Regions from separate parts of the Homo sapiens genome. Here region 2 is linked to region 1. Evidence: fine-mapped expression QTL. A gene starts in region 1. The other region holds a variant in brackets. All regions are shown on one strand. Distances are from middle to middle. Region 1 holds the start of WNT5A (Wnt family member 5A). Region 2 overlaps ERC2 (ELKS/RAB6-interacting/CAST family member 2).

Region 1 (5,378 bases):
TTCTCACATAGGATGTCTAGCCCTCTCGGCAGAGGATCAACTTTGTCCAGAGGTGGAGCAGAGTCCTTGGACAGAGGAAGAAAATGAAATGATAGTCCAACCCCCACTCTTTAAAGGTAGTTTCTCTCCCACTTTTTAATAGACGATTAAAGTGAGGCGAAAAGCGGGAAAGCAACACTTGTTCTCGATCATAGAGAGTTGGGAGGCAGCTGAGGCCAGACCCGAGGCCTCCTAGGGCGACACTCTCCTTCCCAAGCCCAGAAGAAGAGGTACCAACCCTGTGTCCAGCTGGCCGAGTCCCATTTGCTGGGCTGGACCCGTGGCCCCTTCCGTATTGCAGCGGCCGGCGGCGCAGCGAAACTGGTCCTCTGGGGGCCTCCGAGGGCCCCTGCTGGGAGAGTGGGGTCTGGTGGTCGGGAGGGATGAAGGGAGCAGGGGTGGGAGGGAGAGGGGAGCAGCTGCCCGCCCGCCCGCCCCAAGGAACCGAGGCTCGCAGGAGTCCTACCTCAAGGCGGCCAACAGGGGGCAGCCGGCACCGCACCGCGGGGAAGAAAAGGCCGCGGGGATGGCTCCGAGTTCTGCGCGCATAGTGCTAACCCCTTGAGCACCGGAGCGCACGGGGGAGGGGAGGAGAAGACAGGGGACTCTTGGGCCGGGCCTCCTGGGGAGGGTCTTCCGTTGAGAGGGTCGGGGGGTGGAGGAGACGAAGGCTACTACGTCCTGGACCCGAGAACAACTCCCCTACACACACAAACACACACGCACACACACGCAGCCAAGGATCCACACACTCGGACACACACACATTTGTCGGCCCGCGGTTCGCTGCGCACTCTCCGCATTGCCCCCTCGAAACTCCCCTGGCAGAGTCTGTCTAGAAACTAAATCTGGCTGGTTCGGCAGTGAATGTGCGAAGGTGGCTGGGGGGAGGGCAGGGGCTGAGGAGGTGCGACCTCACCGCAAGGCCCAAGTTACTTCCAAACAGCGAATTACCCATTTAAAGAGAGAAGAGAGAAAAGAGAGGCGAGAGAGGAGAAGGGGCCTCGATACCAGACAGGGATTAGAAAGTCAAACAGGGCCGTGGGGTCTCCAGACTTGAAGTTTTTTGTTGTTGTTTTTTTTAACTTTTTGGGGGGAAGAGGGGTTATTTGCTTCCAGGAAACATCTTAATTTCAATTCTAACCTTATTTTCTAAGAAACTTAAAATGGGAAAGACCAGAAAAATGGAAATAGGAATCGAAGCTTGGAGGACAGATAAGAAAAATTGTTTAGAAAATAAAAACTTATGTTGCAGGAAGAAACGTTAACTTTTCGTAAAAGTGAACTCTCAGTGACCCTCGGAGTGTGTGATTCGGCTTTAACATACAACTGACAATTAAAACAAACAAGAGTTCGCAAACTGGCCCCCGCCTGCTCTCCCAAAGCGGAGGCCCAAGTGTTTTCTAAAGGACAAGGCGGACTCCGCTCAGGGGGCCGGGGAGCGCTGTCCCGGAGTACGGGATTACAGCCACTACCACCACAACTCCCCGCCCCCACCACTGCTGCAAAGTGCCTGAGCTCACCCAGTGGCGGCTAATAATGCTAATAACGCGACCCCGCTCCCCGCGCCGGGGTGCGCGCTGGCCCCCCGCCAGGCACTCTTAAAGGCAAAGGGGCCTGAAGCGCTCGAGTTACTCGGCCAAGGCAAGCCTACAATCTGGCCTCCGTCGGTGCGGGGGGGTGTCGGGGAAGGTGTACGCCGCTCTGGAGTAGTTGGCCCCTAGTTCCTCTGCGGGTTCTCTCAACCAAGGAGTCCCTTTCCCCATCCCGAGCCCCGGCCACACACCGTCCCGGTGCCCGCGCAGTGGGCGCTTGGTAAATATTTGTTGAATTGAATCATTATCCTGTTACTGAAATATACATAGTAAATTACACTCGATGTTCTCAGAGCAAAAGGAAAGTCGTCAGTGAACCGCACTCAGTTTGTCTACTATCGCTCTTCCCCACTTTTTCTCAAAAATCAAAATTGTTTGCAGAACGGGTGGTGCGACCAGAAGTGATCTCCTGGGACACTGAGGCAGTGCGCCCGGCGTGGAGGGCGAAGGGGTAGGGGTTCCTGCCAGCGACGCTGGAGTTCCAGCTTCTTCAGGCGGTTGGGGAAATGGAGGGATAGGAAGAGGCGAAGGGAACTCAGTTAACTTCCAACAGGGGGTGGGGGGAAGTAAAGAAAAAAAGTGGCAGCGCACTGAACACCTACCTTCATGGCGAGGGGGAGGGGGCGCGGGGAGGAAGTCGCCACCCGAGCGAGCGCAGCCGAGGAATCCGAGCGGAGCGACCGGGTTAAGCCTGGGGGGACGGTCAGGAGCAGGGCTGCGGAGTCCTCCGGCGCGCGTCCGGCGGGCGCAGTGAACCGGAGCTGAAGCGGGCACTGGCGCCCGGGCCTGGACTCCCGAGTTGGGGCAGAGCTGGGATGCGCCCAGGAATGGAGGGGGCGCGGACGCGCGCGAGCCGGCAGCAAGGGCAGGGCCTGGTCGGGGCGCAACTAGGGAGCCGCCGGTCCGGCGAGGGCGCGCAGGCAACTGTTCCACGGAGAGGCGCTCCGTTTCCAACGTCCATCAGCGACGGCGGTAATTAGGGCTTTCCAACCCCAAATGTGGGCGTGATTGTGCAAAAGACCTTACGACAAATAATAATAAAAAGAAATTCTTCACAAGAGGGTGAAAAAAATGTACCACTACTCAACTGTGGCCCGGGGCGGGGGAAGGGGGGCGATCTGTGCGCCCAGGTGCCCCCAGTTCATTCACACCACAGATTCTGCAAACTCTTGGCGGCTCACGCCTCCTGATCTCCAGCTCCTCCTCTCTGGGTCTGTAGCCGAAACGTCTGCTTCCAGACGCTGATCCTGCAGCCGCGAGTTAGTGTGGACGTCTCTGTACACACACAGACACACACCCCAACACACACACCCCCGCTGCAGCTTTGGGGCCACAGAACAATCAGGCGCGCATGGCTTTTTCTCCGGGAGATGCCGCTGAAAACGCACAAGTCGCCATCTGAGCTGCAAGAGTCAGCCCCAAATTGTGTCCTTTCATTTTAGGGTTCGGCAAAAACGGGGAGCAAAATAGGTGAAAGTCGCCCCGGAACTTATTGCTGTGCGGTGAGCTGGAGGGGTGCGACTAACCCAGGGGAGACGCGGGCTCCCCCCCCCCACCACGTATCCCGTTCTTTCTCTCTTCGGGTTGATCTCTCTTTTCCCCGTTTTTCCAGGGCGAAGGGCGAAGAGCAGCGAGTGCACCGCGGGCGCGAGGCTGGGGAAGGGCGAGAGCTCGGAGCTCCGCGGCGGCGACTCAGCTCCGGCGGTCCATGGCCGGCGAAGCTGCCCACCTCCTCGTTTGGCGCCCGGGTCCGAGGGGCGGGAGAGCGGGCCGGCGGGAGGCGGGCGGTCCCGGGCACAACGGCGGCGGCGGAAGGGCTCGCTGGGCAGCTGCCGCACGGACCCCGGCTCTGGGCGGCGGAGGCGGCTCCGTGGAGCTCGCAGCAGATTTCCACGCGATCCTGTGCCCCGCAAACAGACTGACCGACCGCGGGGACGCGTCCCCCCCTCCCACCCCCCAGCCCTTCTGGCCAACTGCCTTACTCTCTCCCTCCCTCTCTCCAGACTCCTCTTTCCCCTGGTGTTCTCAGAAGGAAGAAAAAAAAAAAAAGAAAGAAAGAAAGAAAGAAAAAAGTTCTTTAAAGTTTCAGAACTAGGGGCGGCTGGAAAGAGAGAGGGAAGGGGGGGGAAGAAAGAAAAAACTCAACTTTGCTATGCGCATGCGTGGTGAGGCCGGCCTATGACAAACTCTGCAGGATTTTAAAGCCGTACTACGGGCTGGGGTGCCGGGAGGCGGGGTACACTCTCCTTGTCTCCCCTTCTCTAAGTTCCCCATCCCCCGCGGCATCTGCTGAAAGAGAGAGGTCCACTCCGCAGCCGCTGCCTGCCTGCCGCCTGGTTGTCTGCGCTCCTTCCAGAGCCACCGACCGGCGGGAGGCTGAACCCCAACTTCCCCGCCTGGACCCCTTGGCTCGCCCGCGTATCCCAGACCGCTCCCACTGGGGCTCCACGGAGACTGCTGCCTTGACATGGAACCTCATGGGGGACCTCCTCATTCTTACCTCTGGGGGAGGATACTTAAGCACTGGGGCTGATGGATAGGGTTAGGCGCTCACCTCCTGCAAAGTCCCCAGAGTAGTAGGGACTTGGGTAGTGGGATGCATGATTGCTCATCTGGCTCCGGCCCAGAGCATGAGGCGCGATGCGTGGTCCTGCCACGGAGATCTTGGCGGGTGCCCTCAGGTGAGGAGATTGCGAAGTTTGGCAAAACCGGGTTCCGGGCACCGGAATTTCTAGACGCTTCCAGATGCCCGTGGTTTTGGGGACTCCGGAGGGGCAGGGTTGGTGGATTTGTGTCCGCTACCTCCAGCACGCCGAGGGCCCCACCCCACAAACAGTGCCTCACACTGGAGCGTAATAGTTATTTTCCGCCGTCTGCATTCTCCAGCTGTCAAAGGTGAAGACACACACACGCGCGCACACACACACACACACACACACACACACACTATTCAATTTTCTCCGTCCATTGGCATGCACTTGACCTTAAGGCGAAAAATCCGTGGCCTAGGTGTTTTGGTGTGGTGGCTGTTTTGTTTTGTTCCTCCAGTCCTCCCCCACCTCCACCCCCACACCCCAGAGGGCGCAGGCCCAGGCTCCAGCGATGCCGTTCCACCCTCCACAGCCCCTTCCCATTCCTTAATTTTCCTAGCCGACTGGACCCTTCCCCAGCCCTGGCCTCCTTCCTGGCGCGCAAAGATGGCAGTGTGAACTTCCCACCAAGTGCCAGAGACAGATGCTCCTGCTTAGCACCTCCCGCCTCCCACCAACTTGCTTTCTTTCCCCCAGGGCGTGTGCGGCCTTAAGGAGAGGGAATCCAAGGTTCTCAAAGCTCCCCTTGGGACATCTCCCCTTTACCTCCTGAGTCTCCATTCCTCTAACCTTCTCCTCTGTAAACCTTGACCACTTCCCGACCTGTGGGCATTTTACAGTCTTCGAATCTAACCTGAGATCTGCCCACCTGAGGAGGGTGTCTGAAAAAGAGCGTCTCCGCCCGGCAAATCGCCCCCAGGCTGCGTCCCTCCGCCCTTCCCCCTCTCCCTTGCCGTTCTGCCCAGTGGCCGCAGACTGAGATTCCCTGGCTGCGGGAGAGCATGTGCCTCCTAGGCAGACACTCCAGCCCCGCCCCGCGGGCAGGGATCTCCGGGACCCACCTTACGTGCAGCAGCTCCAAGAAGTGGCAGGATATGAGCTGACTATGAAAGGGGCTGCCAAAGGGCGCTCCCGAAGAATGGAGAAACTAGCA
Region 2 (5,378 bases), 620 kb after region 1:
TATGTTTCTGGTACAGAAAGAAACTTGTAAGGCATGATTTGAGTTCACTGAATAAGAGAAGTTTTTAAAATTCCTTTATGAAGATCCAAACTGTATACTAATGTTCACTATAATCTTGATAGGTGTCTAGTTTCTTAATAAAGTAGGATCCCTTTTGCACTGGGGGTGGGTGGGGATCCTTGAGAAGGGCCTGCCTGTTCGCTAGGCAGAAGGTTCAACAGGAAGAACCACAGTGAAGAGAGCCAAGCTCCGCCTGGCAGCACCTCCAGAGATACAATAGAATTACACTGGCCCCATGGAAAAAGGAAAATAGATAGAAGTTCACCTGTAAGCAGAATGATCCAGTTATGTATTAGAGCTCCCTTCGTGGAGGTCTGCAACTGGGAAGAAGGAACCAAAAGTATTAATGTTTAACGAGGACACAACAATAAGTGTGTTTATTCTTCACTGTCCTGTTGTCCTAGTGTTGAAGGGGGAGGGGCCTTTAACTTGGGGTTGTCTTTAGGGCCTTTCTGGACTCTGGGGACAAAGAAAATAGAGGAAACATAAAAATAGCCCAGAGGTTAGGTACATGTTTTGTTTTCTGGTTTACTTATTTATTTTTTTAAATTTGTAATGCTGAAAAAATGGAGAGCAAGGCAGAGAGAAAAGCCACTTTGGTCAAAGACTAGCCATGAGGGAGTAACAGCAGCCCTGGGGTGTTCTTTGAAAATGGGACAAGTGTTGCTAGTGTTTATAAACTGGCTTATATTTATCAGCATTCTTGTGCTAGCAAGTCACTGGAAATATTTCCAGTTAGTTTAAGAAGAAAAGAGGATTTAGTGATTTATGTGATTCCTTGGGATAATGTTCTTTGGGATATAGAAGTAAAGATTACTTTTTAATTACTTTGGCTGCTGGAGGTGTTTCATTGACTGTGACCTAATCACCACGGTGAATCAATCAGAGGTGATCAGGTGTTAGGCCCAGCCAATCGCAGCCCTTCTTAGGACCACGTAATGCATTCAATACGGAAACATGTTTTATTCTATTGGGGTTGCAAAGATGGGAGGATATGAACGAGGATATGATACTGGGTCTGCTGATGGCCCTGGCATCTTCCAATATATAGCCCCCAAAAAGGAACAAAAGGCCAAGATATTGAAGGGGGAAATGAAAGAAATGCAATGATGGCAATGTTTGAGTCTCTGGATCCAGCTATGTCTAAAGTCAATGCTATCCTGAAATTTCCAATCACACAAATCATTAAATCCACTTTTTTTTTTTTTTTTGCTAATTTTAAAAGAGTTGCAGTTACTTGCTAGCATAAGAATGCTGACTAATGTAAACTGAAGCCCATTAAGCTTCCCATTCCTTCTTTAAAATGAACTATAAATCCTCAAACTAAACACAATAGTCTCTGACTCAACCAAGGGGCTTTGGGTCCCAGTCTCAGTTTTCCCAGGCTGCACCCTTACTGACCTACTCTGGTCAAGCCACTCACCCAGTCTCTGCTTCAGTTTCCTCATCTGAAAAAATGATGGGCTCTCAAAGACCCTGTCCACCTCTGATACTCTGCTTTCACCCTAAAAATGTGCAGGCAACCACAAGAGCTAAAGCACTCGGAAACTATTCCCCATCACCAAAGCCACCCTTCTGATTTTTTCATTACACCAAGACATTTTACCTAAATAAAATATAATAAAACAGGGAAAACTAAGTACCTATTTAAAAAGCCATTGACTGAATCTTCTCAATCTAACAAAGTAAGGGAAAAATGTGAGACATGACCCCATCCAAAGTAGAAAGCCTAAATAGTAACTGATTCCTACTGTAATAGCAACTAGGTGAATTTTTTCAAACTTTCAAGAACAAATGTTTTCCATATAAGATATACTACTCAACAACAGAAAAAAATTGTTAATTGATGCTGTCAAGAAATCTTACTATCCTGTAAATCAACACACAATCTAGCTATGTACATATATAAAATCCTCCTTATTAGTATGGATACAAAAGTCCTAAATAAAACTAGCATATGGAATTTAAAATACTTAGAGACAACACCATAACAAAAAGGCTTTCACCTAGGGTCCTTTAGCCTAAGACACTTTATTAACAGAAATACCACATCAATAAGCAAAGTAAGAAAAGCTAGTGAGCACTTTAATTGATATTAAAGTATTATTTAGTAAAATGCAACTTTCATTCCTATAAACATTTTTAAAGGGAAATGGAAGCTCTCTCAACATGAGGGAAAGTATTTCCACAGCAAAGAACCAATATGTCATTACTCAAGAAACTCCTTAGGCCATTCCCATAGAAAATATAAGCAAATATTTAATGTTTTGAAGTTTATCGCAGAACAACACACAAAAAATATTTTCAAAGTAGAAATAGTGACAACAAAGGGATAAAGATAATATTATTTGCCTTAACATATAAAGAAAATTTAAATAACCAATAATTTTTTATAATCTTAGGAAAAAATAATGATCTGAATACAAATATATATACACATATCTATTTCTTATACATATTTCAAAATGACATTACAAAAGATAAATCACTTAGGAATAAACTTAATAAGCATCATAAAAACACTGAAAACAGGAAAATAATTGACAGTATATCATATTTACTTAAACTAATCAATTCTCCCTAAGTTAATTTATAGATTGAATGTACCCTATAGATGATTCTTTTTAAAAATAAAGAAAATGTTTCTAGAAATCAACTAGGGGGAAATCAGGTAAGCATGTCCAATACCATTCTGAAAAAGCAATTCTGGATTGAAAGGAGCAATCTCTTATCTATCCAGAACATAAAGTAGGAGAGCCTGCTG[T/C]AGGATACAAGATTAATAATCAGGCTGACATACAGTCCCCAAACAGAGCCAATGATAGATGAGAAATAATATGAAGAATGAATCAAAAACAGTGAAGAAAGACCATTAAATAAATTATATTAAGATAAATTAAACAGAAAGAAATTAACTTAAATTCATGCTTTGTAACATCAAAATAGACTCTTTTTTTAAACTTTCATTTTAGATTCGAGGATACATGTGCAGGTTTGTTATATAAGTAAACTTGTGTCACAGGGGTTTGTCATATAAATTATTTCATCGCCCAGGTACTAAGCCTAGTACCTAATAGTTATTTTTTCTGCTCCTCTCTCCCTCCTTCCCCCTCCCACCTTCTACCTTCAGGTAGGCCCCAGCATCTGCGGTTCCCCTCTTTGTGTTCATGAGATCTCATCATTTAACTTGTAAGTGAGAACATGCGGTATTTGATTTTCTGTTCCTGCTTTAGTTTGCTAAAGATAATGGCCTCCAGCTCCATCCATGTTCCACAAAAGACATAATCTCATTCTTTTTTATGGCTGCATAGTATTCCATGCTGTATATGTACCACATTTTCTTTATCCAATCTGTTACTGATGGGCATTTAGGTTGATTCCATGTCTTTGCTATTGTGAATAGTGCTGCAATGAACATTCACATGCATGAGTCTTAAAATAGACTCTTGACAGATCTAATCTATCAAGGAAGTTTTTTTCCAAATAAAGTTAAACTGGTTACACGAATTATAGTCCATGCACATAACAGAATATGATGCAGCAGTGAAAAGCCTGAGGTCAGCCATCTCTTGGGTAGAATGAATTCTTGGGTGTCCTGCTAAGTAAAGAATGTAAAGGTACACAACTGTGGCCATGGGACACTTCCAACTGCAGTGTTGAAATTGCTTTGACTTTGTACATGTATTGTACTTCCAAAAAGAACAAATAAACTATAAAGAAACAAATGTTTAAAAACCAACAACAACAAACATCAAGGCGCAGAGAACAAGCTGAAATTAGAAGACAGGACTTATCTGATCCTTGGAAGAACTAAAAAAGTGATGACAGAAATGACTGACAAATTCAACTGTATGTACAGCCAAAAACCTCATGACAACTCACAAAACCAAAATTTAGAAGACAAACAACAAAATGGGGGTAAATGTCTGCATTAACTAAGGAAGAGTTAATATTTCTAATATGAGATTACACTAGACAAGAATCCACCATATAGGCAAATCACGGCGAAAATATACACAGTAAACAAAGCATGGAAATATATTCAACCCTGCAATATAATTAAAGTTGTAAAAAGGCAGGATAGTGTTATGCTGAACATTTTCACTTTAAAAGACCCAGTACTAGCAAGGCTATAGGAAATTTGGTATCAGTCTTTTGCTGAGGTATTATAATAGGTACACGAGCACCTTTTAAAAAGCAATTTCAAAGTGCACAGAATATGCCATAAAAGTGGTTATACCCTTTGACCCAGTAATCCAAATGTTCAAAGATATTCCCACTGCAATACTAACTATACAAGTGAAAAATTTTAGAAATAGCTGCAATGAACAAAAGTAGAAGTGTGGCAAGGGAAATCATGACACACAGTGTGATTAAGAATAAAATTAAGAGGCTTATAACTACATGGGCACAAGTTTAATGACAAAAAGTTAAATTTAAAAACTCAAAACCCTGAATTTTGGCTATATTATAAATGCAACTATATTTAATATAATGTACATACAACATAACAAAGTCCCAAAGGAACATGGAAAGAATTTTTTAAATTCTGTCATAATGTTAAAATTATGATGGATTTAAGCATTGATATCATTAGAGCATATTAACAATACATTACAAGGGGAATTATAAATTATTTTTGGAAAATGGCCTGTAGGCAGGATTGAGACAGGTAAATATTTTTCAAAAATTTCCCCAGCATGATATGATACATCAATACTGGCTTATTTGATTCTACATATCTAAATGGATAATCAAAGACTAATCTAGAATGAGAGCTAGAAGAAAAAGACTTTGACTGCATCTCATGTCTGCCAAGGTCACCTCTGGAGTCCAGAATACACATCTGCTCTTATTAGGGTCTCTACCTGTTCATATGGAATACTCCTAGTTCTTTTGATTGTTGGCCTGATCACTGTCTCCCAGATGTTTTCAAGGGGGTGGGGGTAGGGCCACCGAGGGACAGTGGCTCAAGGACTCTAAGTCTCTCTCCAATTGAGGGCACATGACCTCTACATTCCCATTATAGACCCCAGAAAGTTATGTGTGAAGGAATGTGTCCTGGTGTGTCCCTGAGGCTGTGTTCTATGAACTCAAATCCTGTGCTTCAGTCCCAGTGTCTTTAAGAGATTCACTTTCTAACAGCCAAGACCAATTCGTAGTTTAGACAAAAACAAGACAAGCAATCAGCTCAATAATGCACTCAATCTCTCGCTCCCTCTTTCTCTCTCCCTCTTTCTCTCTCTCCCTCTTTCTCTCTCTCTCTCTCAATCTCTCTCCCTCAATCTCTCTCTCCCTCAATCTCTCCCTCTCTCTCCCTC

Evidence for each region. PIP is the estimated chance that this variant, and not a neighbour inherited with it, causes the effect.
Region 2: its variant is the best candidate, but not a certain one, in a credible set for the expression of WNT5A in cerebellar hemisphere (GTEx, PIP 0.53).

The regions. Positions count from the first base shown.
Region 1 is chr3:55,484,744-55,490,121 of GRCh38, forward strand. WNT5A (Wnt family member 5A) reads right to left here and starts at 2,563. Exons shown (of 5, transcript NM_003392.7): 1 at 2,237-2,563. The coding sequence starts at 2,242. WNT5A-AS1 (WNT5A antisense RNA 1) reads left to right here and starts at 2,875. Exons shown (of 2, transcript NR_046656.1): 1 at 2,875-3,136; 2 at 3,247-3,565. RefSeq lists enhancers at 4,187-4,697, 4,698-5,209.
Region 2 is chr3:56,106,008-56,111,385 of GRCh38, forward strand. All of the region lies in intron 6 of ERC2 (ELKS/RAB6-interacting/CAST family member 2), which reads right to left. Among named protein-coding and RNA genes, the nearest start is that of MIR3938, 260 kb to the left of the region's middle. RefSeq lists an enhancer at 4,760-5,378. The variant T/C (reference allele first, on the strand shown) is at 2,825.